Regions from separate parts of the Homo sapiens genome. Here regions 2, 3, 4, 5, 6 and 7 are each linked to region 1. The links come from fine-mapping of genetic effects on gene expression. A gene starts in region 1. Each other region holds a variant in brackets. All regions are shown on one strand. Distances are between the middles of the regions.

The links. PIP is the estimated chance that this variant, and not a neighbour inherited with it, causes the effect.
Region 2: its variant is fine-mapped to the expression of CCDC146 in skeletal muscle (GTEx, PIP 0.96). The same link has a PIP of 0.9 or more in spleen.
Region 3: its variant is fine-mapped to the expression of CCDC146 in whole blood (TOPMed, PIP above 0.99).
Region 4: its variant is fine-mapped to the expression of CCDC146 in sun-exposed skin (GTEx, PIP above 0.99).
Region 5: its variant is fine-mapped to the expression of CCDC146 in tibial nerve (GTEx, PIP above 0.99).
Region 6: its variant is fine-mapped to the expression of CCDC146 in whole blood (TOPMed, PIP above 0.99).
Region 7: its variant is fine-mapped to the expression of CCDC146 in tibial nerve (GTEx, PIP 0.99).

The regions. Positions count from the first base shown.
Region 1 is chr7:77,120,253-77,124,321 of GRCh38, reverse strand. It overlaps CCDC146 (coiled-coil domain containing 146), which reads right to left and starts at 1,707. Exons shown (of 19, transcript NM_020879.3): 1 at 1,590-1,707. It also overlaps the pseudogene FAM185BP. RefSeq lists a silencer at 1,922-2,021 and enhancers at 1,917-2,416, 2,417-2,918.
Region 2 is chr7:76,942,491-76,946,559 of GRCh38, reverse strand. No RefSeq gene overlaps it. Among named protein-coding and RNA genes, the nearest start is that of SPDYE17, 88 kb to the left of the region's middle. The variant A/C (reference allele first, on the strand shown) is at 1,619.
Region 3 is chr7:77,247,662-77,251,730 of GRCh38, reverse strand. All of the region lies in intron 4 of CCDC146 (coiled-coil domain containing 146), which reads right to left. It overlaps CCDC146-AS1 (CCDC146 antisense RNA 1), which reads left to right and starts at 3,023. Exons shown (of 2, transcript XR_007060387.1): 1 at 3,023-4,069. The variant C/A (reference allele first, on the strand shown) is at 2,550.
Region 4 is chr7:77,097,432-77,101,500 of GRCh38, reverse strand. It overlaps the pseudogene FAM185BP. Among named protein-coding and RNA genes, the nearest start is that of CCDC146, 23 kb to the left of the region's middle. The variant C/T (reference allele first, on the strand shown) is at 1,559.
Region 5 is chr7:76,952,701-76,956,769 of GRCh38, reverse strand. No RefSeq gene overlaps it. Among named protein-coding and RNA genes, the nearest start is that of SPDYE17, 78 kb to the left of the region's middle. RefSeq lists a silencer at 1,471-1,671 and an enhancer at 1,639-2,505. The variant G/T (reference allele first, on the strand shown) is at 2,129.
Region 6 is chr7:77,279,489-77,283,557 of GRCh38, reverse strand. CCDC146 (coiled-coil domain containing 146) reads right to left here. Exons shown (of 19, transcript NM_020879.3): 14 at 2,905-3,129; 15 at 773-1,001. Among named protein-coding and RNA genes, the nearest start is that of CCDC146-AS1, 33 kb to the right of the region's middle. The variant A/G (reference allele first, on the strand shown) is at 2,499.
Region 7 is chr7:77,078,883-77,082,951 of GRCh38, reverse strand. It overlaps the pseudogene FAM185BP. Among named protein-coding and RNA genes, the nearest start is that of SPDYE18, 18 kb to the right of the region's middle. The variant A/G (reference allele first, on the strand shown) is at 1,790.

The DNA of each region.
Region 1 (4,069 bases):
TAACTTTAACTATTTTATACCAATCTTAATATTAATAATTTTCTCCATTTTCAACCTTGTATGATCAGCAAAGTAAATTTTCAGTCAATTCTATTTGGTTTTTGTTTGAAAAAGTAAAATAATGATTATGCAACATAGAAAATTATAGTTCAGTTGCCAATTCCATTAACTTAGTTTGTCTCAGAAACGGAAAAATTACCATAGACACAGAATTAACTATTAAGAATTAATATTTAATCTAAAAATGTCTAGTGTTTCTACAGAAAATTTGAGTACATTCTCAACTTCCTTAAACCAGTGCCTTTTTCAAATTTCTTTTCAAAGTTACACCTGTCAATTTTCATAAAAAATAGTTTGAAGATTATTCTGAATAATTATAACCAATGAAACACAAAGACAAGAAAAGAACTATTGCAGTGGGCCCTTGCTGAACCTGAGCTAGCACCTATAATGAGTGAGTCTTCACCGAAAGAAGAATAAGGAGGGAGCAAGGACTAGAAGGACAGAAAAGAGGCAATGATAACTTAAGAGAACACTGAATTTTTAAAAATTTTAAAAAGGTAGTGGCTAGCAGAGAACCTGAGACTTGTACCCATGAGAACTTTAGCCCAGTCTATCTATCACGATAGCCCCAAGAATTCTGGTCATTGTACTTGGGTAAGGGCTTCAATTTTTTAAGGCACTTGCATTTTATGAAATGTTAGTGTTTGCAGGTGTCTTGGCTAAATAATTTAGGGAATACATTTTAGGAGGAAGTAGGGGCACAGAGGGGGAGAGAGAAACCAGGCAGGAAAGAAGAAAAAAAGAAGAAAATAAATCTTTCTGTTCCCATTATTTTACTGCCCATAGAATTATAAAAGGTAAACACACACACACACACACACACACACACACACACACACACACACACACACACACCTTATAGGGTCATTTAGAACCATCTTTCTTCATTTTAAAACTAAAGAAACAGGTCTAGGTGACACAGATGAAGCAGTGGCAGAGCCAGGAAAATAATCTGACCCTTGTCCCTGCTCTTTCCACCGCACCATGGTGACTCTCTTTTTTGTGTCTTTTTTTTTTTCACTCTAAAACTGATGATCATTTGTAGTCAAAGAGATCAATGCTATTCTCAAAACAAGTTCTGATCTCTCATAATTTTCTTGGTAACTCAGAATCAATGTTAAGTACGTTGAAATAAAAATACAGTACTTTACACGGTAATTTGGTAGACTGTGCACCACGGTCCCATCCATTTTCTTACTTGATCCTCACAAAAACCCTTTGAGGCAAGGCAAGGAAGGTATTATCATCTACATTTTTAAAGTGAGCAAATTAAAACCCAAAGTAAGGTCACTTAGGGTCAGGACGGAGCAAGTACTCTATTCCTATATTTGGAATATAGGAGGGAATACACTTCCAAAGAGGCAATTCCCTCAAAAAGCACCAATCTTGCTCTTTACTCTCTTACCAAGGCATTCTCCATGCCCTGGAGATGCCCGCACTAGGTTAGTGAAGCTTGGATCTTGACATCCACATAGGTTACTCCTAGTTTGCACCTAGTTGTCAACTTAAAAAGCGCAGTTTCTTACCCCTTCCCTTGGTCCTGATCCTTATTTAGGCTCCTATTTTTCTCTTTGGGATTTGGCCTCCTGGGTCTCACTCCAAAGCTCCACCCTCTCCAAACAAGAAGTCGCGTCCTTGGTATCCAAGGTGACCATGCAGCTTTACCCTCGTTGCCCCCTTCCGTGCTTCCCATTGGCCAGTGGCCTCCCATGTACCGCCCCTCCAATAGCCAATGGTCTTGAAACAAAGGGCGCCCGCCTTTCCAGCGATTCTAACACCTGCCCTCTTACCCGTGCTCCCCTGCGCATTGCCTCCTGGGATATGTGGTTTCTAAGAGGCGGAGCTCTGCGACTTTCCACCGCTTTAGAACTACGTATCCCGTCGGCCTTAGCGAAAGGGGGTGGACTTAGGCAAGGGGTCCAGGTCAGAGTTCAGAGCTTTCAAATCCCAACTTGCCCCTGGGGATTACGCAGCTGATGTTTACATCGCCTAGTCAAGCCAACCGGCTCGCTCTTGTTTCAGCAAACCCTGACTTACGTCTCCTATTTGACTTGAGGCGGCACAGTGGCCAAGTCGATTGGCCGTGGCAAGTGACCCTCCCTGTGGCTGAAGTGTTCTGAGGACTGGCGAGAGAGGCGCGCCATGCTTGCCCCCTGTTCAGGTTGGGAGCTTGGCTGCTTCCGTCTCTGTCTCCGTCAGGTCCGACTGTGGGCTGGCGCTGGGCGCTGGTCTTGCTGGGCTTGCCAAGCCAGGCCGTACAGCTCAGGTAGGGGCGAGCGCTGGCCCGGATCGGAGACTGAGGTCCCTCCGCCTGGCCCGGCGCGCCGAACTCTGAAGGAGTGGACACTGCAGGTGAGCCCGTTCGGTCGGCTGCGGGCGCGGCTCCCGTGCCACCTGGCCGTGAGGCCCCTGGACCCCCTCACCTACCCGGATGGCGACCGCGTGCTGGTCGCGGTGTGCGGCGTGGAGGGCGGCGTGCGGGGCCTGGACGGCCTGCAGGTGAAGTACGACGAGGATCTGGAGGAGATGGCCATTGTGTCTGATACTATCCACCCCCAGGCGTCCGTGGAGGTGAACGCGCCCCTGAAGTTTGGCAAGTGAAGTGAAGTGAAAACGGGTTTGGGTCCCAGGGAACGCACAGTGAACTTAATAAATTTGGTCGACGTGCACTTTTAATTGGTCCTGGCTTTCTAAACCTAATTTACAGTTGGCCCCTTCGGAAATGCAACTTTTCCTCTGTTCTATTCTTGAGTATCCGAGTAGTATTTAAAAAATTAGGTTCCCAATTATAGAAATTTTATACATCGAATGGAAACACGATTTGGTATAATCCAGGTCAAATTCTATTTCTGGAGCCGCTTGTGTTCTTCTTTATCCCGTTGTCATTAGCAAACTGGCTTATTTTTCAAGGTTGAAGTTTCTTGACAATTCATTCAATGGTATGGCAGTCCATCTACATTTCCCCTTGCTCACAGCCTGGGGGTGTGTCCCAAAACAGCCCTGTCAATAGGATGTTCCAGGTACCACCTGGTTTGAGTATTTGGTTTTAGACGGGCGCCCAGCTTCTTACTGTTATGTTTCCATTCTTTTTGGCCTAAGTTTTCCATGAGTAGCAAGCTTTGAAGAAAAACACATGGTAAGCCTGCCTAGGAAGCTTCAATAATAATGCCTGCAAGATACCTTTCTTAGGTTTTCCTAAATGGCAAGCCACTGTGTACACACACTTTTCTAGGAAGGGCTCCCCAGACTGTCATTCTTCCTGGGACTGAAGGAAGATATTGATGATGATGATGATGGTAATAATAATAGCATTTAGCATTTTTAAGATCATCTTTTATAATGCTTACAGTTGCCCAAATAGTAGATGCCGTAGTCCTCCCTTATCCACCGTTTGGCTGTCTGAGTTTGTTACCTGCCTCAACTGTTGTAGGAAAATATTAAGATATTTTGACAGATCACAGTAATATAACTTTTATTACAGTATATTGTTATAATTGCTGTATTTATTATTATTGTTGTTCATCTCTTACTATGCCTAGTTTATAAATTAAACTTGATCATTGATATGTATACAGGAAAAAACATAGAATATATAGGATTTGGTACTATTTGTGGTTTCAGGAATCAAGTCGGGGGGGCGGGTCTTGCCTACTTTAAGAGAAATCATCAATATTTATGTTAATTCCAAATTAAATATCAGCGTTTTTAATTTTTAAAATTTGTATACAGCGATGCCTGCAGTTACATCTTAAATAGACAGCCAAGGATGGCATTTGTAATTCCTTATTTTCCAAACTTGCTTCATGTACCACTGCCATTTGTCCACAATCTTGTGGGGTTTTTTGTTTGTTTGTTTTGGTTTTTTTTGAGACTGCATCTCACTCACTCTGCCATGCAGGCTGGAGTACAGGTGCACAATCATGGCCCACTGCAGTCTTGACTTCACGGTTTTAAGCAATCTTCTCGCCTCCGCCTCCTGAGTAGCTGGGACTACAGGTGCATGCTA
Region 2 (4,069 bases), 180 kb after region 1:
ATGTTGGCCAGGCTGGTCTCGAACTCTGACCTCAGGTGATCCGCCTGCCTAGGCCTCCCAAAGTGCTGGGATTACAGGTGTGAGCCACCAAACCGGGCCTGAATCTTTTTTTTTTTTTTTATGGCAGGGTCTTGGCTCTGTCACCCAGGCTGAAGTGCAGTGGTGTGATCATGGCTCACAGCAGCCTTGAATTCCTGAGCTCAATCGATCCTCCCACCTCAGCCTCCCAAAATGCTGTGATTACAGGTGCAAGCCACTAGACCCAGCTGAATTATGGATTTTTAAGGCTGCTTTATGTCACATTACTAACAAGGATATTTTCTTAACAGCATGGATTGAGTAGGAAGGGTAGAGGGAGATGGCAGTGAAAAAAGGAACTTGATTGCTTCTGTTTGAAATAACTATCTGATTAAAACAACAGCAACAATAACAACACCAACAAAGAGGAAAATATACTCTACCACCAAAAAAAAAAATAAAACACAACAATTTTCACTTTGGATGGACCATTTCCTTTGAAATGAAAAGAAAAAATGAAGCAGTTACACCATGGGTGTCCCTAGCACAAGATGTATCCAACCTATAACTTCTGATTACTCAGAAATTCACAGAAAGTAAATTCAGATAGGATTAAGAAAGCCCCTAGGGACTAACAAGTGGAAGAATATTTATTTGTTTGCACCAAATAGTTGACTGAATACTGAATAACTATTAGCTTAAATTGCAATAAACTCAGTTATTTAACTGAGATCTAACAGTTTGCATTTTTCTTTTTTTTCTCCTAAGCAGCCTCTGAATAACATCTCTAGAGTATCTCACGAACAGAATGACTATGATCTTCATAACTGAATAGCAGCTAGCAGGATTGTTCAGCAATTTTCTAATTTTTTTTTGTTTGTTTTCTAAGATGACACTTGTTAGAATTTAGGAATAGACACTCACAGAGATATTTTTCCCCTTTTGGAAAAGAGTAAAGGGTTGCGTTATCTAGAAACATGCATGTATTTTATGATGAAGGGATAAAGTTTGAAACAGAAGACCAGGTTCTGACTCAGAATTTTGTTTCCTAATCACTGGTTAATCTCCACCTGCTCCTTTTTCCACATCCTTTGGTAGCAAATATGTTGATATTAAGGTTTATCAAGTTACATCAATTGACACATTTAATTTTGTTTTCTGTTGTTTCATGTAGACTATCCCATTAGAGAATACATTTGTAGCCAGAAAACCACCTTGGACTTTTAGGGAGCAATTCCTCCCTAAAAGGGGAGCGATGGTCAGGGCCTTCTGGAATTACTCCTACAAGAACAGGAGCAGGGAAAGAGGATATATTTTGGAGAGGAAGTGGGATATAAAGAGGATATTAGTGCACAAGGATTTAGGATATTAGCTTAAGTAGAGTAAGGACAGAGTTAACAACCCCAATGGGATGAAATGGCTATAATTATTTCTTTGTGTTTCTAGGTATATCTGGAGAAATCATTTGTAATATTAATCTAGAATTGTTTTCTCCCTGAATCTCTGATTCTCTTCCTCTCATTCAACTCAGGGATCTCTTCCTCTCATTCAACTCAGGGAAGGGGTGTTAAAAAGCAGAAAGAACAAATGGCACTCCAAT[A/C]TTTCTGGCTTTTTATTAGTTAGTTTATCTGTCCTTTAAAAGCCCCACAGAAAAGAGAGAATTGGCAGGCTGGACAGAGTATCTTGGCCAGAAGCAGTAGGGAGAGCTGGACTAAAGCCTGTAAGACTAGAGAGATGTGTCTCCACTTGCAAGGAGAAAGCAAGATAGTTTGTAAAAGTCCCTGTGTGGTAGAGACCAAGGCCTCAGTCAACAGAAGTAAGGTTGAGTGTTGGAAAACCCCTGAGAGGAAATGACTGTATGGGGTATTTGAGAAGATGGTTTCCATGGACAAACTCAGAGAAAGGTTTTATGTCCCAAGTGTGCCTGGCAGGAGTGAGCCAGCATGCCAGAGGGGCCGTGTGGAGAAAGACAGAGGGTGTCTCAGTAGCTGTCTGTGTGTGGACAGATGCTTAAGGATAAGAGAGATCCCACTCCTTAATCCCAAGGCACTCTCTGAGAACCCACTAAGGGACAGAAAATCATGAATGGGACTGAGTTTAAGTTTCCCACTAGTCATGCGAGAAAGGCGGCTCTTACAACAAAAAATAAAGTTTTATAATGTAAAGACTGTAGATTTCTTGCTCACCTGAATTTGTGGGCTGAGATTCATACCTGTAAATAGAGTTAAAAAGAACAACCAGTGTGATATTGACATGATGGCTCAAGAGATGGGGATAAGAAGCAAAGGAAGGGAAGGAAAAAGAGCACTACTCATACGAAGTGACAGGTGCTTGAACCATTCTGTCCTGCTGCCTGGAACTAAGAACACCCTGAGTTGACTGTGTAGGAGACTGAAAGGACTGAGCACTTACTGCTTCAGTGTGCTTCCTTGAAGAACAGCTGGAAAGCATCTAGAGCAGTGAGATGACCATAGCAGGAGACCAATATTGACTAATAGACTGTGGGGCCACATTCCATTGTCCACCATGCTGCAACAAGACCCAATGGAAGTGCTTACTTGAGATACTGGGTCTTTGCAGGCTTGAGTGTGGAAGTTTGTAAGGTTCTTGTTTTGGTTTGTGAAACCCTCATGATTATGAACAGTCCAGAGGAGTGAAGAGCCTGAAGAAGGAGAAACTGGACTTCTTGCTTATAAGGCAGGTAGATCTGTTCCACATTGCAGTGCTGGTTCTCTGAATAGCAGGGCATTTATTTAGGCCAGTTGGTCTTTAATTATTTAATATAGCAGATACATAGTCAGTTCAGGTTGAGGATATCTGATTTATTGGGCAAAGTAGATTTTTAAGAGGGCTAGGTTGGAGTTCCACACTCCAACTTTTAGGAATCATGTAATTTCTGGCATGATCTTTCTGACTGTTTCCTGATTTGTCAAATGGAGATTACTGCATTGCATAGTGATACAAAGGTGGAACCATGAGTACAAGTTGAAATCTTAATCTCCAAGGAAGTATTATGGAAGTACAGGAGGAATCATTAATTCTTCCTCAGAAATGGAATCAGAGTGACTTTTGACATTGGGCTTAAAGATTGAGTAGAATTTCACTGGAACAACAACAATGAGAGTTCCTACACAAGTAACAGTTTATGTACAACAATAGTGTATACGTGAGGCTGTGTGGTATGTGCATAAAATCAGTCCTGCATCAATGCCTACCCATGTCATTCTGGCATTCTGCTAGAATCACCTGTAACTCTCTACCTGAGACTTTCTTTTTATTGGGCAGGCTGGAAATGGTAAGTGATGAATGTATGCAGTAGCAGTTCTTGGCCAGTGACAAATGGATTGGAGAATACACACTCTACCTTCCTTGCCCTTGGAGGCAGGAGGGGTTGGGGTTGGATAATAAGGAAGAGTGTTCCTCATTATCTTTTAGGACTCCCCAATGAGATTGAACTCAGTTGCCCTACCTCTAACACCTGCTTGACAAGGCACAAATTATTGGTTCTCTTTCCTTCTCTTTATCTCTCTCCAGACATTTGTTGTTTCCCGGGATCATTTCCCAAATAATATAGCACCGGTACTCAAATCTTTGTCTCAGAATCTGCTTCTGGGGAAACCAACTTAAGACAGAGACATTTGTTGTTCATATAAGGCACAAGGAGAGTCTAGGCAAGAGCTGGTCGGGGAGCTGTTATTTAAAGGTAGTAGTGAAGTCCAGTAGGACATGCTGAGCATTTAGATAATACAGAAAATCGGGAGCCATTAAAAATCTAAACAGAGGGGAAACTGGGAGGAAAGCAAAAGCATATCCACTTTTTAGAAAGCAAGCACAACTAGCTTTATAATGAAATAGGTTGGAGAAGGTAGAGAAGGCATTCTATTGGTGACAATGAAAGAGACAAAAGTAATATTTTGATGAGTAATAATGAAAGCTAAATTTGTGTAGTAATAGAGAATTCGCAGAGAATCTGTAGGACTAGGCAAATAATAGGGTAAGAATTTCAAAGGGAGGAGAGTGTACAGCCATTGATGAAGCCAACATTTTTGAC
Region 3 (4,069 bases), 130 kb before region 1:
GAGAATCACAGCTCCAAAGGTTCCCTTCCCCCAGAATTTTGGCTCCTGTGGGCTCCCATTACATATGACCTCTGCTACTGAGACCTAATCACAACACTGTAGAATGCTCCCCTCCCTCCACACCTTACCACCATGTTCCTGAAGTCCTATTTAAAGCAATTCCTTTTACCCAGTACATCGTGTCTGGCTATCAAGAAAAAAACTGCAAGGCACACTGAAAGGCAAAAAACACAATCTGAAGAGACAGAGCAACCATCAGAACCAGATATGGCAGGGATGTGTGAATTATCAGGAATTTAAAACAACTATGACTAATAGGCTAAGAACGCTAACAGATAAACTCAATCCCGAAATGGGCAGTTTAAGTAGAGAGAAGGAAATTCTAAGAAATAATAAAAAAGAAATACTCAGCCAGGCATGGTGGTTCATGCCTGTAATCCCAGCACTTTGGGAGGCTGAGGCGGGCAGATAACTTGAGGTCAGGAGTTCAAGACCAGCCTGGCCAATATGGTGAAATCCCATCTCTACAAAAAATACAAAAATTAGCTGGGCGTATTGGCGGCCACTTGTAATCCCAGCTACTCAGGAAGCTGAGGCAGGAGATTATCTTGAACCTGGGAGGCAGAGGTTGCAGTGAGCCGAGATTGTGCCACTGTACTCCAGCCTGGACAGAGTGAGACTATGTCTCAAAAACAAACAACCAAACACACACACACACACACACACACACACACACACACACACACACACACACACAAATACCAGAGATCAAAATCACTGTATCAGAAATGAAGAATGCCTCTAATAGGCTTACTAACAGAACGAACTTGGCTGAGGAAGGAATCTCTGAGCTTGAGGATATCTTACTAGACACTACCCAAACTGGAAAAAAAAAAAAAAAAGACTAGGAAAATACCAGAATATCCAAGAACTCTGGGACAACTACAAAAGGCATAAATACTCATAAGAGGAATACCAGGAGAAGAAAGAAAGGAACACGAGAAATTCCTGAAGCAATAATGTCTGAGAATTTCCTTCAAATTAATGCAGGAAAATAAACTACAGATCGAGGAAGCTCAAAGAACACTTAGACATATCATATGTAAATTACAGAAAGTCAAAGATAATGAAAATTCCTGAGAGAAGTTACAGGAAAAACACACTTACCTATGGAGGAACAAAGAATTACATCCGATTTCTCCTCAGAAGCCATACATGCAAGAAGAGAGTAGAGTGAAATATTTAAAGTGTTGAGAGAAAAAACCACCAAACTAAAGCTCTGTACCTTGTGAAATTATTCTCCAAAGTAAAGGAGAAATAAAGCCTTTCTCAGATAAAAATTGAGGACATTTGTTTGTCAATAGACCTGCTTTGCAAGAAATGTTAAAGGAAGCTCTTTAGAGGGAAGGAAAATTATATAGGTCAGAAACTCAGTTCTACACAAATGAAGAGCATTAGCTATGGAATCAGTGAAGGTAAAAGAAAAGCTTTTGTCTTATTCTTGAGATACTCGATAACACTGTTCAAATTTATAACAGCAGCAATGTATTCAATTACATATGCATATATATTTATGTATGCCCATGTGTAAGTGAAATGAATGACAGCAATGATACAAGGGATAGGAAGGAGGAATAGGACTATTTTGTTACTTAAAAAGTACTTGAAGTGGTATAGTGTTATTTGAAAATGGTCTTAAATTAGTTGTAAATGTATATTGCAAACTCCATGGCAACCACTTAAAGTAAAAAAAGATGTACAACTGATATACTAAGAAAGGAGAGAAAATGGAATTATATTAAATGCTTAGTTAAAACCACAAAAGGCATAAAAAGAGAGAACAAAAACAGGAATGAAGAACAAGCACAACAAATAGAGAACAGTGAAAATATGGCAGAAGATATTAACCCAACTACAACAGTAATCATTTTAAATGTCAGTTAAAAGATTGTCACAATGGATCCAAAAAGAAAAACAAACAAACAAAAACAAGACTCAAATTATATGCTGTGTTTGCCAATAATCCAGTTTAAATATAAAGACACATATATATTAAAAGTAAATGGATAGAGAAAGATATGCCATGCTAACATTAAAAAAAGATGAGTCACTAAATTAATTTCAGACAGAACGAACTTCAGAGCAAGAAAAAGTTATCAGAGACAAAGAGGGGCATTATATAATGATAAAAGAGTCAATCCTCTGAGAAGACCTAATGAATTCTTTTTTTTTTTTTTTTTTTTTGAGACAGAGTCTCAATCTGTCGCCAGGCTGGAGTGCAGTGGTGCGATCTCGGCTCACTGCAACCTCCGCCTCCTGGGTTCAAGAGAATCTCCTGCCTCAGCCTCCCGAGTAGCTGGGACTACAGGTGTGCACCACCACGCCCAGCTAATTTTTGTATTTTTAGTAGAGACAGGGTTTCACCATGTTGGCCAGGATGGTCTTGATCTCGACTTCGTGATCTGACTGCCTCAGCCTTTCAAAGTGCTGGGATTACAGGTGACAGCCACAGCGCCCGGCCAGTGGATTCTTAATATATTTGCACCTAA[C/A]AACAGAACATCAAAATACATGAGGCAAAACTGATAGAAGTGCAAGGAGAAGTAGATGAATCCACTCTCACAGCTGGAGACTTCAACATCCCTCTATCAAAAGTGCACAGATCCAGAAGTCAGAAGATCAGTTAAGGACATAGTCAAACTCAATAATCCCATCAATCAATTGGATATACTTGGCATCTATAGAAAGAAATGTCAGTTTTTCTAAAAGCCAGTCATCATTGTAAATTGAGATTAACAAACAAAAGAAATAAAAACATTAGAAAGTACAGACAGTGAATGGGAACATATGGTTTTGTTCACTTATTCATGAGAAAATACAAAAAAAGTTTATATTTTTATTTTAACTAATAAGATGAGAGGACACGATGCTAGAATGACATTTTGGAAATTGCTTCAAATAGCTTGAATGTTCTAAACAAAATGAGTTCGATATAATTGCGTGTTTCTTCCAATAACCGTATTTTGAACTGTTTTATTGACCAGATTTCCTGAAGAAATCTAGAGAAATATTTTTCATTTTTCTTGCTATTCTTTATTTAATGACTAACTATTAAGTGCCAAAGAAGTCATATGATTTCCCGATATGGAAAGATTTTAAAGTTTGTATTGATCACACTTGGAAAATCATATGAAATAAATGAATACACAGACAATTATGTCCACTGGTTATAACAAATAACCAGATCCCACTAGTCCATAGATCTAGGAACATGAGCTAAAAGCACATGCACACCAGGTTTTCTCATTTGTATACATTTAAGGGATACAAGTGCAGTTTTGTTACATGGATATATTGCAGTGTGGTGACGTCAGGGCTTTTGGTACAACCATCACTCAAATTATATACATGTATACCCATTAAGTCATTTCTCATCCTTCACCCTCCTTCTGTCCTCCCACCCTTCTAAGTCTCCAGTATCTACTAGTCCACACTCTACGTCCACGTGTACACATTACTTAGCTCCCACTTATGAGAACATGTGGTATTTGGCTTTCTGTTTGTGAGTTTTTTTCACTTAAGATAACGGCCTTCAGTTCCATCCATATTACTGCAAAATACATGATTTCATTTTATGACTGAATAGTATTCCATTGTATATATATGTCACATTTTCTTTATCCAATCTCTTGACAGACACTTAGGTTGATGCCTTATCTTTGCTATTGTGAATAGTGTTGCAATAAACATATGAGCGCAGGTATCTTTTGGATATGATTTCTTTTTCTTGGGTATATAGCCAATAGTAGGATTGCCAGATGGATTAGTAGTTCTATTTTTAGTTCTTTGAGAAATATCCATGCTGTTTTCCATAGAGCTTGTACCAATCACATTCCTAGCAACAATGTATAAGTGTTCCCTTTACTCAGCACTCCGCCAACATCTTATTTTTTATCTTTTTAATAATAGCTATTCTGACTGGTATAAAATGATATATCATTGTGGTTTTAATTTGCATTTCTCTGATTAGTGATGAACTTTTTTCATTTGATTCTTAGCCATTTGTCTGCTT
Region 4 (4,069 bases), 23 kb after region 1:
TAACCCACTCCCTCTATGACCCATTAATCCATTGATTCATGAATGGGTTAATCCATTCATGAGGGTAGAGCCCTCATGACCCAATTACCTCCCAAAGGTCCCACCTCACAGTATTGCTGCACTGGGGACTAAGTTTCCAACACATGAACTTTTGTGGGAACGTTCAAACCACAACAAGCAGTAAAGAGAATGCTGAGAATGGAAACACCCACTGTCTCACACTAGGTGAATCTCCTTAAAGCATGGTTTTCTTGTATTTTTATCCATCTTGAAATTCTTCACTAACTTTTTTGGTGTAGGATAGTCAGTAGACTTAGCACTCTGTGGTTCTACCACAGGTTGCTCTTTACCTACTTTTCCAAACTTTTTATTTGTTCACAAAATAATTGTGTTTACTATGTACTATGCACTGTGCAAAGTTCCCAGGTATGAAGCTAAATAAGAAAGATGTGATTCCTGTCCTCCTAGACTTGCCTCATTGGGATCTAATTAAATGAAAGAGCTTCTGCACTGCAAAAGAAATTATGAACAGAGTAAATAGACAACCTACAGAATGGGAGAAAATATTTGCAAACTCTGTATCTGACAAAGGTTTAATATCCTTTGTTCCTTTGAATCTTCAAGGAAGTTAAACAAATCAATAAGCAAAAAACTAATAACCCTATTAAAAATGAGCAAAAGACAGGACATTTTGCTCATTTCTCAAGAGAAGACGTACAAGAAACCAACAAACATGAAAAACTGCTCCAAATCACTAGTCATCAGAGAAATGCAAATCAAAACCACAATGAGATATCATCTCACACCAGTCAGAATGGCTATTATTAAAAATAAGTAAAAAAACAGCAGACGCTGGCGAGGCTGTGGAGAAAGGGGAACACTCATACACTGTTGGTGGGAATGTAAATTAGTTCAGCCACTGTGGAAAGCAGTTTGAAGATTTCTCAAAGAACTTAAAACAGAACCACCATTCAACCCAGCAATTCCATTACTGGATATATACACAAAAGAAAATAAATCATTCTTCCAAAAAGACACATGCACTCAACATATTCACTGAAGCTCTATTCACAATAGCAAAGACATGGAATCAACCTATGTGCCCATCAGTGGTGGACTGGATAAAGAGAATGTGGTACATATACACCATGGAATACTATGCGGCCATAAAGAAGAATGAAATTATATCCTTTGCAGCAGCATGGATGCGGTTGGAAGCCATTATCCTAAGCGAATTAACACAGGAATAGAAAATCAAATACCACATGTTCTTACCTATAAGTGGGGGGTAAACATTGGATAATTATGGACATAAAGATGGCAACAATAGAAACTGGAGTCTACTAGATGGGGGATGGAGGGACGGGGCAAGGGTTGAAAAACTATTGGGTACTATGCTTAGTACCTGGGTGATGGGATCATTTGTACCCCAGACTTCAACATCACACAATATACCCAGGTAACAAACCTGCACATGTATCCCCTGAATCTAAAATATGAAAAAAAAAATTAGTAATCTTATAAGCTTCAGTACACAAACCAAGTTTTTATTCATACA[C/T]AAATATACTCCTTGTTCATATACTCACAGGAAATATGATGGTATATTAGACCTTCAGATGGATTTTTGCAATTAGGCGCATCTGGCTATTGAGTAAATGAATCCAGTGCCTTTTTTTGGTTTTTCCCAGATACTGATACAAGTCAGTATTCATAAGGTATATGAAATGAGATAAAATGAGTTTACTGAAGATTAATTCTGAGGCCAAAGTTATTCCTTTACTTTTTAGTGTAGTTTTGGAATTATTTTAGAAGAGATAACATTATTGCTTATATTTTCAGTAGAATAAATATGAGTTCCTGATTCTAGGAATACTTACACGTACAAACACACATATGAAGAATAATCCTACTACTTTTGGTATTAGGGGAAAGGGGCTGGGAAGAATGGTTGCAATATTCCATACTTATCATGGAAAACATATTTTCACTAAGACGGAAATCTTTGAAGCTTCTTTGTTCTGTTTTGCTAGTCATACCTCCATGTATTCATTATTCCTATCTCAAACCACTTTAATTCTTGGCCCAGAAACTACTTTTAATTTAATAGACATGGCAAGTGGCCTGAAAAATAAAAGTAATTCTTTTTTTCCATACCATATTTTAGTGTTACTTGGTTGAAAACTTCGCTTTGTGTGGTCTGATAAATACATTGATATTTAGGTTGAAAATGTACAGTGACTACATTTCAGTAATTTTTTTCACTTACAGGTTTTAGAAGTATTGTTTTTCCTCTGTGCCAGCAGTTATGGTGATTTGTAGTTATGCTATAAAAGCTTAAGGTTTGGTAGTAGAGAAAGAAGGTTTGCAGAGATACCTAAGCCAGTTATTTCAGAACTACAGCTCAATCTTTGACTGGACTTGTGATATTGGGAAAAATTGCCAACAAAAATAACATTGTAGATATTCATCCATGTTTTAGCATTGCTATGTATCACAGTTCCTTTCTAGATTGTCTCTAGTACATAAAAGTATCTTTTTCTTTTTGGCAGGTAATATAACATTACAAAGCGAGATGGGTAACATCACAGTAGGTACGTACTAAGCTACTAGTTCGTGTATTTTGTCCACTTTTAAAAATGGGTATATTTGTGATGACTTTATTAGAATAAATGAATTCTACAGTTTAACTGATGAACTTGACAGGATCACAAGTCAAATATAGGCAGAACCAATGTACTAATTATGTCCACTCGAAGAAAATTGCCTGAGCTGGTATTAAGAAATGTCTTATATTTCTTGCTAAACTTCTCTGAAGAAAAAAAAAAGAAAGAAAAAAAGATCTTACAAATTTCTTGAATTCTTCAAATATCTAAATTAAGTCCTTGAAAGAAAGATATAAATAATGTCACTGTTTATTGGGCTCCAAATGTGTTAACATTTGAAGACAACCTTGTGAATACCAATAACTAGTTAGTCAACATGTATTTATTGAGTACCTGCCATGTATTAAGAATTCTTTTAGGTACTAGGGAACATATTGGTCAACAGGACATAGTTTCTGTGCTCAGAGACTTCACCTTCTCTGAGCCCTGGGAAGAAAGACAACAAGCATATAAATAACAAAAGGTAATTTTAGTTTGTGGTAAGTACAATGAAGAAATAAGAAAGGGTAACTGAATAGAGATTGGGGAAAAAGAAAGCTACTTCAGTTAGGCAATTGGGGGTGGTCTGGAGAGGGTACATTTAAACCAAAGCCAGAAAAATGAGAAAGAGTTATATAAAATTCTGGATACAGGCTCCCTAGATAGAGGAACAGCAAGTGCAGGCCTTGAAAATGGAAGTTTACTATTTTCAAGGGAAAGAAGGCTGGCTTATGAGGAAAGTGGTAGGATATGAGGTAAGTAAGGCTAGATCTTAGGACCTTGTAGACAGGGTAAGAGTTCAGACTTTATTCCAACTACAACAGGATGTTAGGGAAGTGATATATAATTTATATTTTAAAAGAACAATCTAGCTGTTATTTCATAATGTACCAGAAGGGTTCAGAAGTGAAAGCAGGCTATTAGAAGGCTTAATTTGTTCATTCTACTGTTGATGGACACCTGGGCTATTTCTAATTTTTTGGCAACTGTAAATAAAGCTGCTATGAATATATTAATGTAAGTCATTTTATGGATGTATATATATTTTTCCTCTTGGGTAAATACTTAGGTATGGCATTGCTGAGTTGACTAGGTAGGTTCTATGTTTAACTTTATGATAAACTACCAGACCTTTTCCCAGAGTTCCACTTTATACTCTCATCAACAATGTATGAGAATTTCAGTTGCTCCACATCCTCATCAACATTTATTATTGTCAGTTTTAAAATTTTTTTATATCATCATTTGTTGAAAAAACTTCCTTTCTCTGATGGATTACTTTAGCATCCTTGTCTAAAATCAAATGACTATATAAGTGTGGCTCAATGTCTGATCTCTTGTTCCTAATTCATTGATTTATTTGGTGAGCCTTATGCCAGTGCCACAATATCATGATTACTGTAACTTTGGTAAGTCTGTAAATCAGG
Region 5 (4,069 bases), 170 kb after region 1:
TGGTTAAATAACCCCGGAACACTAGGTAGCCCTAGAAGGAATGAGGAAGACTCACAGTGGCCTAGATCTATTGTTAAACCAAAAAGGAACTTTGAGCCAGGCAAGGCGGCTCATGCCTATAATCCCAGCACTTTGGGAGGCGGAGGCAGGTGGATCACCTGAGATCAGGAGTTCAAGACCAGTCTGGCCAACATGGTGAAACCTCGTCTCTACTAAAAATACAAAAATTAGCTGGGTGCAGCGGTGCACACCTGTAATCCACCTACTCGGGAGGCTGAGGCAGGAGAATCGCTTGAATCTGGGAGGCAGAGGGTGTAGTGAGCCAAAATTGCACCATTGCACTAGCCTGGGTGACAGACTGAGACTCGGTCTGAAAAAAAGAAAAAAAAGGAACGTTCAAAATAGAGGGTAGAGAATATGAGAATATGCACCCATTTGTGTTTTTTAAACAATTGCATACAATAAACGGGCTTACAGACGAAGAAAGTTTCTGGGAAGAGACCCAAGAAGCCCCAGAAGGTAGGGGGATAAGCTGAAGAATTGTTAAAGATTTTATTTATTTATTTTTTGAGACAGTGTCTCCCAGGCTGGAGTACAGTGGCGTGATCATAGCTCACTGCAGCCTCGACCTCCTGGGTTCAAGTGATCTTCCTGCCTCAGCCTCCTGAGTAGCTGGGACTACAAGCGTGCACCACCATGCCAGGCTGATTTTTGTATTTTCTGTCAAGATAGGGTCTCACCATATTGCCCAAGTTGGTCTCAAACTCCTGGGCTCACACATTCCTCTTGCCTCAGCCTCCTAAAGTGCTGAGATTACAGGCATGAGCCACCACGCCTGACTGAATTTTTAAAGATTTAGAGAGGGCTGTCAGCTGGGCGCAGTGGCTCATGCCTCTAATCCCAGCACTTTGGGAGGCCAAGGTGGGAGGATCACATAAGGTCAGGAGTTTGGCCAACATGGGGAAACCCCGTCTCCACTAAAAATACAAAAATTAGCCAGGCGTGGTGGCATGCGCCTGTAATCCCAGCTACTGGGGAGGCTGAGGGAGGAGAATCTCTTGAACCCAGGGGGCAGAGGTTGCAGTGAGCCGAGATCGTGCCATTGCACTCCAGCCTGGGCAACAGAGTGAGACTCTGTCTTTAAAATAAAATAAAATAAAATAAAATAGGGCTCTCTCCTCTCTGGCAGTACCCCCACTCCCCACAACATACACAGTAGGGCAGTTTGCCACTTGCGTTCTTGCATAAAGGTCCACAGCCTAAGGGGCAGTGGCAGGAGCAGCGGCAGGAAATATTCCTGGCAGGGGTTCTTTGTCTGAAATTTTCCGCCTAGAGATGGTGTCTTTTTTTTTTTTTTTTTGAACTCCTCAAAGGCTGGGGTTTGTTCAACACACCCAAGGGGCCACCAGTGCTCTGAAGCAACTGAAAATGAATGACGTGGCCCAAGAAAGAATGTGACTGTTGGCCACAAAATGGGGAGTGGTGTTGAGCAAAGAAATTTAAACTCTAATACCCATAATCCCAGCACCTGGCTAGGTCCAAGTGGGAGGATCGCTTGAGCTCAGAAGTTTAAGACCAGCCTGGGTGACAAGACAAGACCCCATCTCTACAAAAAATAAAAAAATTAGCTGGGTGTGGTGGGACACCCCTGTGGTCCCAGCTACTTGGGAGACTGAGGCAGGAGGATCACTTGAGCCCAGGGGGTCCAGGCTGCAGTGAGCTATGACGACACCACTGCATTCCAGCCTGGGTGACAGGGTGACATCTTGTCTCTTAAAAAAAAAAGGGCCGGGTGCGGTGTCTCATGCCTGTAATCCTAGCACTTTGGGAGGCCGAGGCGGGCGGATCACAAGGTCAGGAGATCAAGACCATCCTGGCTAACATGGAGAAACCCCGTCTCTACTAAAAATACAAAAATAAAATAAAATAAAATTAGCCGGGCATGGTGGCGGGCGCCTGTAGTCCCAGCTACTTGGGAGGCTGAGGCAGGAGAATGGCGTGAACCCGGGAGGCAGAGCTTGCAGTGAGCCGAGATTGCGCCACTGCACTCCAGCCTGGGCAACAGAGTGAGACTCTGTCTCAAATAAAAAAAAAAAAAAAAAAGGACAACACGTGGGGGTGGGGTATG[G/T]GTAGAGGGTATTTGCAAACTGTTAGAACTTTTCAGATGAATGAACGGCGAGCACACGTACCTTATTTTAGATTTGCCACAAGGGAACCAGTGAAAAGGGTGAGCCTTTTCTTTTGTTTTTGAGATGGGGTTTCACTCTTCTTGCCCAAGCTAGAGTGCAATGGTATGATCCCGGCTCACTGCAACTTCCACCTCCCATATTCAAGTGATTCTCCTGCCTCAGCCTCCCAAGTAGCTGAGACTACAGGCGTGTCCCACCATGCCTGGCTAATTTTTGTATTTTTAGTAGAGATGGGTTTCGCCATGTTGGCCAGGCTGGTCTTGAACTTCTGACCTCAGGTGATCCGCCTGCCTCAGCCTCCCAAAGTGCAGGGATTACAGGCGTGAGTCACCTGCCCAGATGGGTGAGCCCTTTCAAAACATGTTCCAAGGGGCTGGGACTTACATAAGATAATTATTTGGGGAAGACTGGTTTACTCCTCAGGGCTGTAAAGCCATCTTTTTTTTTTTTTTTTTTTTTTTGAGACAGAGTCTCTCTGTGTCGCCAAGGCTGGAGTGCAGTGGCATGATCTTGGCTCACTGCAACCTCTGCCTCCTAGATTTAAGCGATTCTCCTGCCTCAGCCTACTGAGTAGCTGGGATTACAGGCGCCCGCCACCACGTCCGGCTAATTTTTTTTTTTTTGTATTTTTAATAGAGATGGGGTTTCACCATGTTGGCTGCAAAGCTATCTTGCTTTTCTTTGTTGTGCAGGTCACACCTGGGTCCTGAGCTGGCGCCATCACCGGAGACGCCAGGTGATGTCCATTCATCAGAAATAATGAGCAAAGCAGCTGTGGCTTCTAATCAGCCCATCCCTCCAGGGTGTCAGATGGAGGCCAATTAGTGGACGCACTAGACAACCAAATTCTGCCTTTCCAAGCAAAACATCAGAAAATGTTCTAGCCCTTAGCATTGATGCTGGAACCCAGTGTCTTGCTTCTGCTTGGGTTTTCATGATCTTTCCTTGCTCTGGGTGAGCTGGGGGCTGGTTCTAGATCAGAACCTTCAGAGGCACTAAGAAATGCCACCTGGAGTGGAGTTAAAGAAGTTATTTTTTTTTTTTAACTTCTACTATTGTCAGAGGCGGGTGAACCAGAGCAACTCCATTTTGAATAGGGGCTGGATAAAATGAGGCTGAGACCTATTGGGCTGCATTCCCAGATGGTAAAGGCATTCTAAGTCACAGGATGAGATGGGAGGTTGGCACAAGATACAGGTCATAAAGACCTTGCTGATAAAACAGGTTGCAGTGATGGCCGGGCACGGTGGCTCACGCCTGTAATCCCAGCACTTTGGGAGGCTGAGGCGAGCGGATCACAAGGTCAGGAGATCGAGACCATCCTGGCTAACACGGTGAAATCCCGTCTCTACTAAAAATACAAAAAATTAGTTGGATATGGTGGCGGGCACCTGCAGTCCCAGCTACTCGGGAGGCTGAGGCAGGACAATGGCGTGAACCCGGGAGGCGGAGCTTGCAGTGAGCCGAGATCGCGGTACTGCACTCCAGCCTGCGTGACAGAGCGAGACTCCGTTTCAAAAAATATATAAATAAATAAATAAATAAATAAATAAATAAATAAATAAAACAGGTTGCAGTGAAGAAGCCGGTTAAAACCCACCAAGACCAAGATGGCGACGAGAGTGACCTCTGGTCGTCCTCACTGCTACACTCCCACCAGCTTCATGACAGTTTACAAATGCCATGGCAACGTCAGGAAGTTACCCTATGTGGTCTAAAAAGGGGAGGCATGAATAATCCACCCCTTGTTTAGCATATCATCAAGAAATAATCATAAAAATGGGTAACCAGCCACCCTCGGGGCTGCTCTGTCTATGGAATGGTCATTCTTTCATTCCTCTACTGTCTTAATAAACTTGCGTTCACTTTATGCACTCGCC
Region 6 (4,069 bases), 160 kb before region 1:
GTCTTAACTTTTTATCAGGAAAAAAAATCCAAACGCAAACCTGACATTTAAAAAAAAATATTATAGGTTAGAATTTGTTCCTGCTACATTGGTCAATGGGAACAAGTTTAGGCTACACAGTTTTTATTTTAATTTTTAAAAAAATTCTATGAAGAATAAACCCCAAGTAACACATGTGAAGAAAGTAACTTTATATTCACATTTTATTTATTTTGTTATTTCATGTTTTAGTTTTTTGGATCTATTCCACTTTAAAAAAGGCCATGTCAAAGGCCAGGTTACTAAGCTATCATAGAACTACAGTGGTTAATAAAGAATCAAGTTATATGTAACTGACAACTACTAATAAGCAACAATCTCCAGACAATCTCTTGCTCTGGGGGCCAGAGTATCAAAAGTAAGAGTGCTGGCTCATCCTCAAGATCTGTCCAGCAAGCAGCAACGACATAATTATGCTGAGGGTAGTGAGAGTCTAGATCACTAAATTTTGAGCTATGAGGAAGCTGAGCTAGAGATAAGTCCTGGGAGTCTTCAAATTCCAAGAAAAGCAGAAAATGCTTCATAAGAAAAAAAGACAATGTGTAGCCTGGATGCCTGAAGCACAGATTCCATCCTAGAGTAGCATTCAAATGTATTTTTAAACAAGATGGATGGATTCTTATAGGTCCCAGAAATAGTATGGCTTGGTTTACATGCAAGAACTCACCCACAAACTAATAAAGGCAGAAAAAAATAAATGGTCTGAGGAAGTGTCCCGTGATCACTCACCCACCTGAATTTGGAGCACAGCTAGGTCGGCATCCAGGGACCTCTTGGCTGGCAGTAATTTCTGGGTCACACAAATTTGTCTTTGCTTCTCAGCAATCTTCATTTTCAGGAATTGGATCTTTTCTTCCAGTAGATGTATTTCAATTTCTCCATTTAGTTTCATCTTCTCTTGGATATTTATTTTTTCATAAAAAATGCATATTTCTTCTTCCCGCTCTATCAGCTGAACGCCACTATGGTCAAATTCAGAGGCAGAGGCTAAGTGGGCATTGAGACCACCGTTTTACTAGTCATTGTGGTTCCCTCTGGCTTTGGATGCAAGATATACACAACATAGCATACTTCCAGAGGATCACAGATAGTCACCAATGGCTTTCTAGTTAAATTACATCCACACTTTGGAATTCTCTAGGGATAGGAGGGTTACTGAGCCTCTCAACTTTGAGGCTGACCATGTGGTTGGCTAGCCACAATGTCTCTGAAAGTCCCAAAGGTTTTCCTGGGGTGGGAAAGAATGTCATTCCCAATGCACAAACAAAGTGATCCCATAGTCTGATTTTCTGCAGATCCTTTTCTCGGGTCAGACTTGCCAACCAAGGCCTGGCCAGAAGCACACAGGCAGGGGGCCAGGGAATGTAGTTCTGGTGTGAGTCTGCTCTATATTAAGTTGCTAGGCCCATTAGTTTCTTCTCAAGTTGAATATTTCTGGTTGTGATTTCCCCATAAACAGGCAAAAATCTATCCTTTGTAATCATGCCAGGAGAAAGACCCCTCCTTGAATGGAGAATATGGGGAGGAAACAAAGTAAGAATGTTCTAACCCCAGCAGCTCTGGTCTGCATGACCGATCATGCACCACTGATCTGAGTGGCACCTGGGTGCACACTGTTTGTCCAAACGCTTTGGTTTGTGCCAGGAGCTGAATAGCATTTTTTTTCTCCCCTGGAGAAAAACCTACCAGCCCTTTGAAAATGTGCTGTTCTTCAAAGGACCCTAAAGGTCTTCCCACACATTATGCATATACATTATTTCAGAGTTCCTCCTTTAATTGCTTCTATCTATGACTCCCCTTCCTCAAAACATGCATGCATGTGGTTGTACTCAGCTAATCCCAGCTCTATATTTTGTCTGTTTTCCTTTCAAAGGCTCAAGATCAAGTTCTCTTGACAACAGAAGCCAGGAACAATGTTTTACCACTTTTTTGTACTCTCAAGGTCTAGCACTCTAATGCCTTATACAGAATAGCACACAATCAAAGTTTGCTTAAAAAAAATCTGATACCAGATGTCATTATCACAGGGCTCTGCAAATTTCACATTCCAATTTCTCAGAGCACAAGTAACTTGGGAGAAACTGCTGAAGTAAACATTGATTAATGATATAACTGCAACCTGGAAGAAATAATGCTACTCCTAAAGGTCTTACTAACTTGCTGAGCAAATGAACTAGGAGAATGGCTAAATATAATAAGACCAAACTTACCACAACATTGGGTACAAGTTCCACACTTATTTATGTCAATTATGCTGAAAGAATCTGATGTTATAAGAGGCAACCCGAATGACCACTTAGGAAAGGACATTGATCTTCAAAAGCAAGCAACTTTCCCAAACCCCTCCTCTTTGCCTGTTTATGACATAGGACGGTATTTCTTTCTTTCTCTCTTTTTTTTTTTTTGTTTGTTTTTGGAGACGGAGTCTTGCTCTGTTGCCCAGGCTATAGTGCAGTGGC[A/G]CGATCTCAGCTCACTGCAACCTCTGCCTCCCGGGTTCAAGCGATTCTCGTGCTGCAGCTTCCCAAGTAGCTGGGATTACAGGCCCCCACCACCACACCTGGCTAATTTCTTGTATTTTTAGTAGGGATGGGGTTTCACCCTATTGCCCAGGCTGGTCTCGAACTCCTGAGCTCAAGTGATCCACCCACCTTGGCCTCCCAAAGTGCTGGGATCATGCCACTGTGCCCAGCGTGAGGACAGTGTTTCTTATTTTCCAGGGAAGCAACACACAGTCCCTTCTCTCCAAAGGCTAATGCAACCTGAATATCACATTTCCCTCACTATTCACTGTCAAGTCTAGATAGAAAAAGAGGTGACATTCCTCAGTTGGATCCCTGGTGCTCTGTTCTCACACCTGGTTTTTACCTTTCATTTCGATGCTGAACAGCTTTTTCGTATCTTTTGCGAAGCTGCACCATCTCCTCTTCGATCATTGTGATCGTGTTGGCAAGTCTGTCAATGTTATTTAACTGGGCTTCCTTCTTTTCTTTCATTTCCTGAAGTTTTGATACAATTTTGCGCACATCGTTTTGCATGCTCTCTCTGATGGTAACATTGTTGGCGTGTTTCAGCATGGAATTTTGTAGCTTTCTTTTAAAGTAATAAGACAATGGGTAAGATTATAATTTTCTTTAGTTTATTTAAAAGGAATGAAGGCTTCTGAAACACAAGCACTATCAAAGCAGACCTTGCTTTAGTGTAGCCCTTGAAATGATACTAGTAATAATGATATTCATCTTATGATACTCTTCAGGAATTTTCATAATCCTTCCAGGTCTCAGATTTTCTCTGCTCCAGATTAGAACATCTTTCCTTTTCCCCCCAATGTTCTGCTGACCCCCTTTATCAAAGCGAGAGACTGCAGTCATTCATTTATTGTCATTCTCAGGAGACTGCTGTCTTGAGGACAGAGATGGTTATATCCAATAATGTCCACTGGACATAAGGTGGTGCCTGACTCAGCCTGTGGCCACAATAAATGCTGAATGAATGCATGGCCTCTATAAATGTATTTTATTTTCAAGTTGGATGAGAACCTGATTAGGAAATCATATTTTTCTTTTCATCCACCCCCGACCCCTGAAATGAGGCCACTTTATAATTGCTTTGTTGAAGGAAACTGGGCAATAATGGCCATCAGAAAATTAGATTATACCCTGATCGTGTACTGTTTACTAACATAGGTGAAAGAGTCCAGAAGATCTTGGCACATGGTAAATAATAAATGAAGAAAACAACCATTTGCCAGACGCTTTTCTGAGTGTTTTTATATGAATTAGCTCATTTCACAGTAAAATGTCGCATGAAATATGGTATGGATAAGGAAAGTGAGCTCAGAGAGACAAAGCAGCTTGTCCAAGGTTACAGAGGTAATAAGTGGGAGGGGTGGTATTTGAGTCTGGACACCACCTCTTTCACCAATCTGCTATAACGTATTGCCTCCCACAACACATGAGATGCTTTACATCTACAATCAGGGGATGTTGGTTAACAAACGATTTGATTGTTTTCTAACTTCCCAATCCCAATT
Region 7 (4,069 bases), 41 kb after region 1:
AGAAAAAGGAAGAATTGGGGAGTAGGGGAGGGTGGTCTTCATAAGATCAAATTTCAGTTTTAGGTATTCATTTTATATGTCGTGAAAATTAAGAAAGTTGTCTGTTAAAATTCATAGAATATTAACAAAAAACATAACAGGAATAAAAATAATACCTATACACTCCCAGATATAACTGCATGCCACTTAATGGGCAAACCCATAGTTAAGTGGCAAAAATTTGATGAAAATCTAAGTACAGTCATGCATCACTTAATGACAGAGATACATTCTGAGAAATGTGTTATTAGGCAATTTTGTTGTCATGTGAACATTATAGAGTGAACTTATACAAACCTAGATGGTACAGCCTACTATACACTGAGGCTGTGTAGTAGCCTATTATTCCTAGGCTACACCCTGTACAGCAGGCTACTGTACTGAAAACTGTAGGGAATTGTAACACAATGGTATTTGTATATCTATATATAGAAAAGGTACAGTAAAAATCTGGTATAAAAGATAAAACATGGTACGCCTGTATAGGGCACTTACCATAAGTGGAGCTTGTAGGACTGGAAGTTGCTCTGAGTGAGTCAGTATGATGAGTGGTGAGTGCATGTGAAGGCCTAGGACATTACTACTATAGACTTTATAAACACTGTACAGTTAGGCTACACTAAATTTATTTTTAAGTTTCTTCAATAATAAATTAGCCTTAGTTTACTGTAACTTTTTTACTTTATTTATTCTAGAGATAGCTGCTTTCTCTGTTGCATAGACTGGAGTGCAATTATAGCTCACTATAAACTCAAACTCTGGGCTCAAGTGATCCTTCTGCCTCAGCCTCCCTAGTAGCTAGGTTGCAGGTGTGCACTACCATGCCCAGCTAATTTTTAAAAAGTTTTTAGCAGAGACAAGGCCTTGCTATGTTTCCCAGGCTTGTCTTCAGCTCCTGGCCTTAAGTGATCCTCCCACCTCAACTTCCCAAAGAACATTTTTACTTTATAAACTTACATTTTAAAAAATTTTTTGAGGCTGGGCACGGTGGCTTACGCCTGTAATCCCAGCACTTTGGGAGGCCGAGGTGGGCAGATCGTTTGAGGTCAGGAGTTCCAGACCAGCGTGACCAACATGGTGAAACCCCCATTTCTACTAAAATACAAAAATTAGCCGGGCGTGGTGGCGGGCGCCTGTAATCTCAGCTACTCAGGAGGCTGAGGAAAAAGAATCCCTTGAAACCAGGAGGCAGAGGGTGCAATGAGCCAATATCGCGCCACTGCCCTCCAGTCTGAGCAAGAGCGAGACTCCCTCTCAGAAAAAAATAAAATAAAATAAAAAACTTTTTGACTCTTTTGTAATAATACTTAGCTTGAAACACAAACACACTTTACAGCTGTAGAGATATACTTGTCTATCTTTATTCTGTAAGCTTTTTTCTGTTTTTAAAATTGTTAATTTTTTTAAATTTTACTTTTTAAACTTTGTTAAAAACGAAGACACAAACACACACATTAGTCTAGGCTTTTACTGGGTAAAGAATGTCAGTATCACTTTCACCTCCACATCTTGTCCCACTGAAAGGCCTTCAGGGGCAATAACACACGTGGAGCTGTCATCTCCTGTGATGATAATGCCTTCTTCTGGAATACTTCCTGAAGGACTTGCCTGAGGCTGTTGTATCGTAACTTTTTTTTTTTTTTTTAATAAGCAGAAGATATACACTCTAACGATAAAAAGTATAGTAAATACATAAATCAGTAACACGGTCATTTATTCTCATTATCAAGTATTATGAACTACACATAAC[A/G]TATGTGCTATACTTTTTTATGACAGTGGAGTGGGTTTGTTTACACCAGCATCACCACAAATGCAGGTAGTGCATTGCATTTAAACAACCATTAGGATGGCTACGAAGTCACTAGGTGATAGGAGTTTTTTACCTCTATTATAATCTTATGGGACAACCATCATTTCTGTAGTTCATCGTTGACTGAAACATAATTATGCAGTGTGTGACTGGGTATCAAATATAGTGAGAATCAACTTGTGATCTAATGCTTGAATTTGATAAGGAGCCAAGAGAGTTACCTATTTTTGGTCCCAATAATCTAAAACAATAATACAAGTTTGTTTAACTGTGCTCTGAATCATAGCATAACCAAAATTATTGGCATATGTAAGCATGTTTGAATTATAAGCTAAAGCTATTTTGTCATATTTTTATTCATTTATTCATGGAATCATATGCCTTTCTAAAATTTAGATTGTTTTAAAACTATTCTCACAACTTCAGTCATTATTTCTATGTACATAACTTCCAAGTCAATACATGCAGACCTGATCTCTATTGTTCTTGTGCATTTCTATTCCACTAAACCAGTGCCACCTAAAACTTAATGTTTAAAAACAAAATTATCTTCCCCTAGCCTACCTCTTCCTTCTCCTGTCTTTTCTATTTTTCTTTATTTGCTCAGTTACTCAACAAATGTTTGAGTCAACACTGCCGGAAACTAGGAGTGCAAGGGTAATATAAAGCATGGTCTCACTGCCTTCTGAGGAGCTTACATTCTAGTGAGGAAAGGCAAACCAGAGAATACAGTACAGTGGGATCAATGTTATAAACGTATGTACATTGTACTGTGAGAACACAGGGGTGAGGAAGTGAGAGGAGTCAAATATGGCCAAACTATAGAGAGTAAAGGGGAAAGTGGCATAAAAGTAGGCTGGAGAGTTTGGGAGAGGTCAGATCATATGGGACAGTTTGGATTTTATATTAAGAGCATTGGGAAGCCCTTGGAAGGTTTTAACTTGGGGTTCACATAATCAGATTTTTGTGTTAGAAAGATCACTCTGAATGTTGAGTGGGGATAGATGAGAAAGAACAATGGTGGATGAAGGAGAAAAAAACAACTTTTGCTTTTTAGGAGGTTACTGCAGTAATTCAGCAGAAGGAGTACAGGGGCCTGGACTCCATAGTGAGCTATCTTAAACTCAGCAAATAAATAGGCCTTCAGTAACTTTTGCTTGAATATAAAGATGAATGAATGCTATGAGGAAGATGCATGCTTACCTCATTGGTTATTATGAAGCGCCTTAGCCTACTGAGTTCTTTTTGTGTGTTACTTGTTATTATGGCTTATACTCCGGCCCCACCTCCTGAAGCAGGAAGGGCCAAATCGCAGAATGATGAGTTTATTTCCTGTTCACGGTGGAAGAATCTAGGTACTGATCAAGCATCGTTTTGCAGAGTAGCACAGACTACCCTATGAGGTTGGTCCCCAGATGGATCTGTATGTTGTCTCTGATAGCAAATTAAATCCATTAAAGTAATAATGGACCTCAGGTGAAGAGAGCAGCAGTCTCTGGAGGGAGCTGTGAGTATGAACAGGTGATTGGGTTTAAGAGAAACTTCCATATTTCATTTTGGTTTTAAAACTGTTTGGTACCCAGTCAGCCACAGGCCTTATGTATCAACTGGATGAAATAATTTAAGAGGCCTAGAAAATCAGGGCAGATTGCTTTTTTCTATGGAGATTTCCAATCTGAAACCAAATTTTGGAAATAATAAGCAGCTTTATATGTGAGCTATTATTATAGGCAGCTGAGCTCAGCTCATCTTGGCCTTCCTCATAGAGCCCATGAGGGATAAAAATAGAAATACTCTTATTGCTAAGAGCCTGGATTTTATCTGCAGCATGACTTCTGGATAATCTCTGCAAGAAGCCATGCCAGTAAAATTATTCCCTTAGGTTCCAGCTTCCCACAGGGTTTTGATGTGTCAGCTCTATAATTTTATTTGATTTCCTGCTCCATGGTTTCCTTTGCTATTGCTGTCACTGATAAATAAACTCAGGTGTATAATTCCTACCATGATTTACACGTATTATGTGCTATTCTGAGGTCAAAAGGAAACCTGAGACTCTCAGGCTGAAACATTTACCTACTAAAAAGCTATGCACAAGTGTGTATTGGGGCTGCATTCTATAATCTTCATGAGAGTCTTGATTCTAAGTTTTGTCCTCTACCCATGTGTGGCAAATTTAACATGTTGTGAGTGGCTTAGGTAAGATGCTTCTAATAAGTTGGC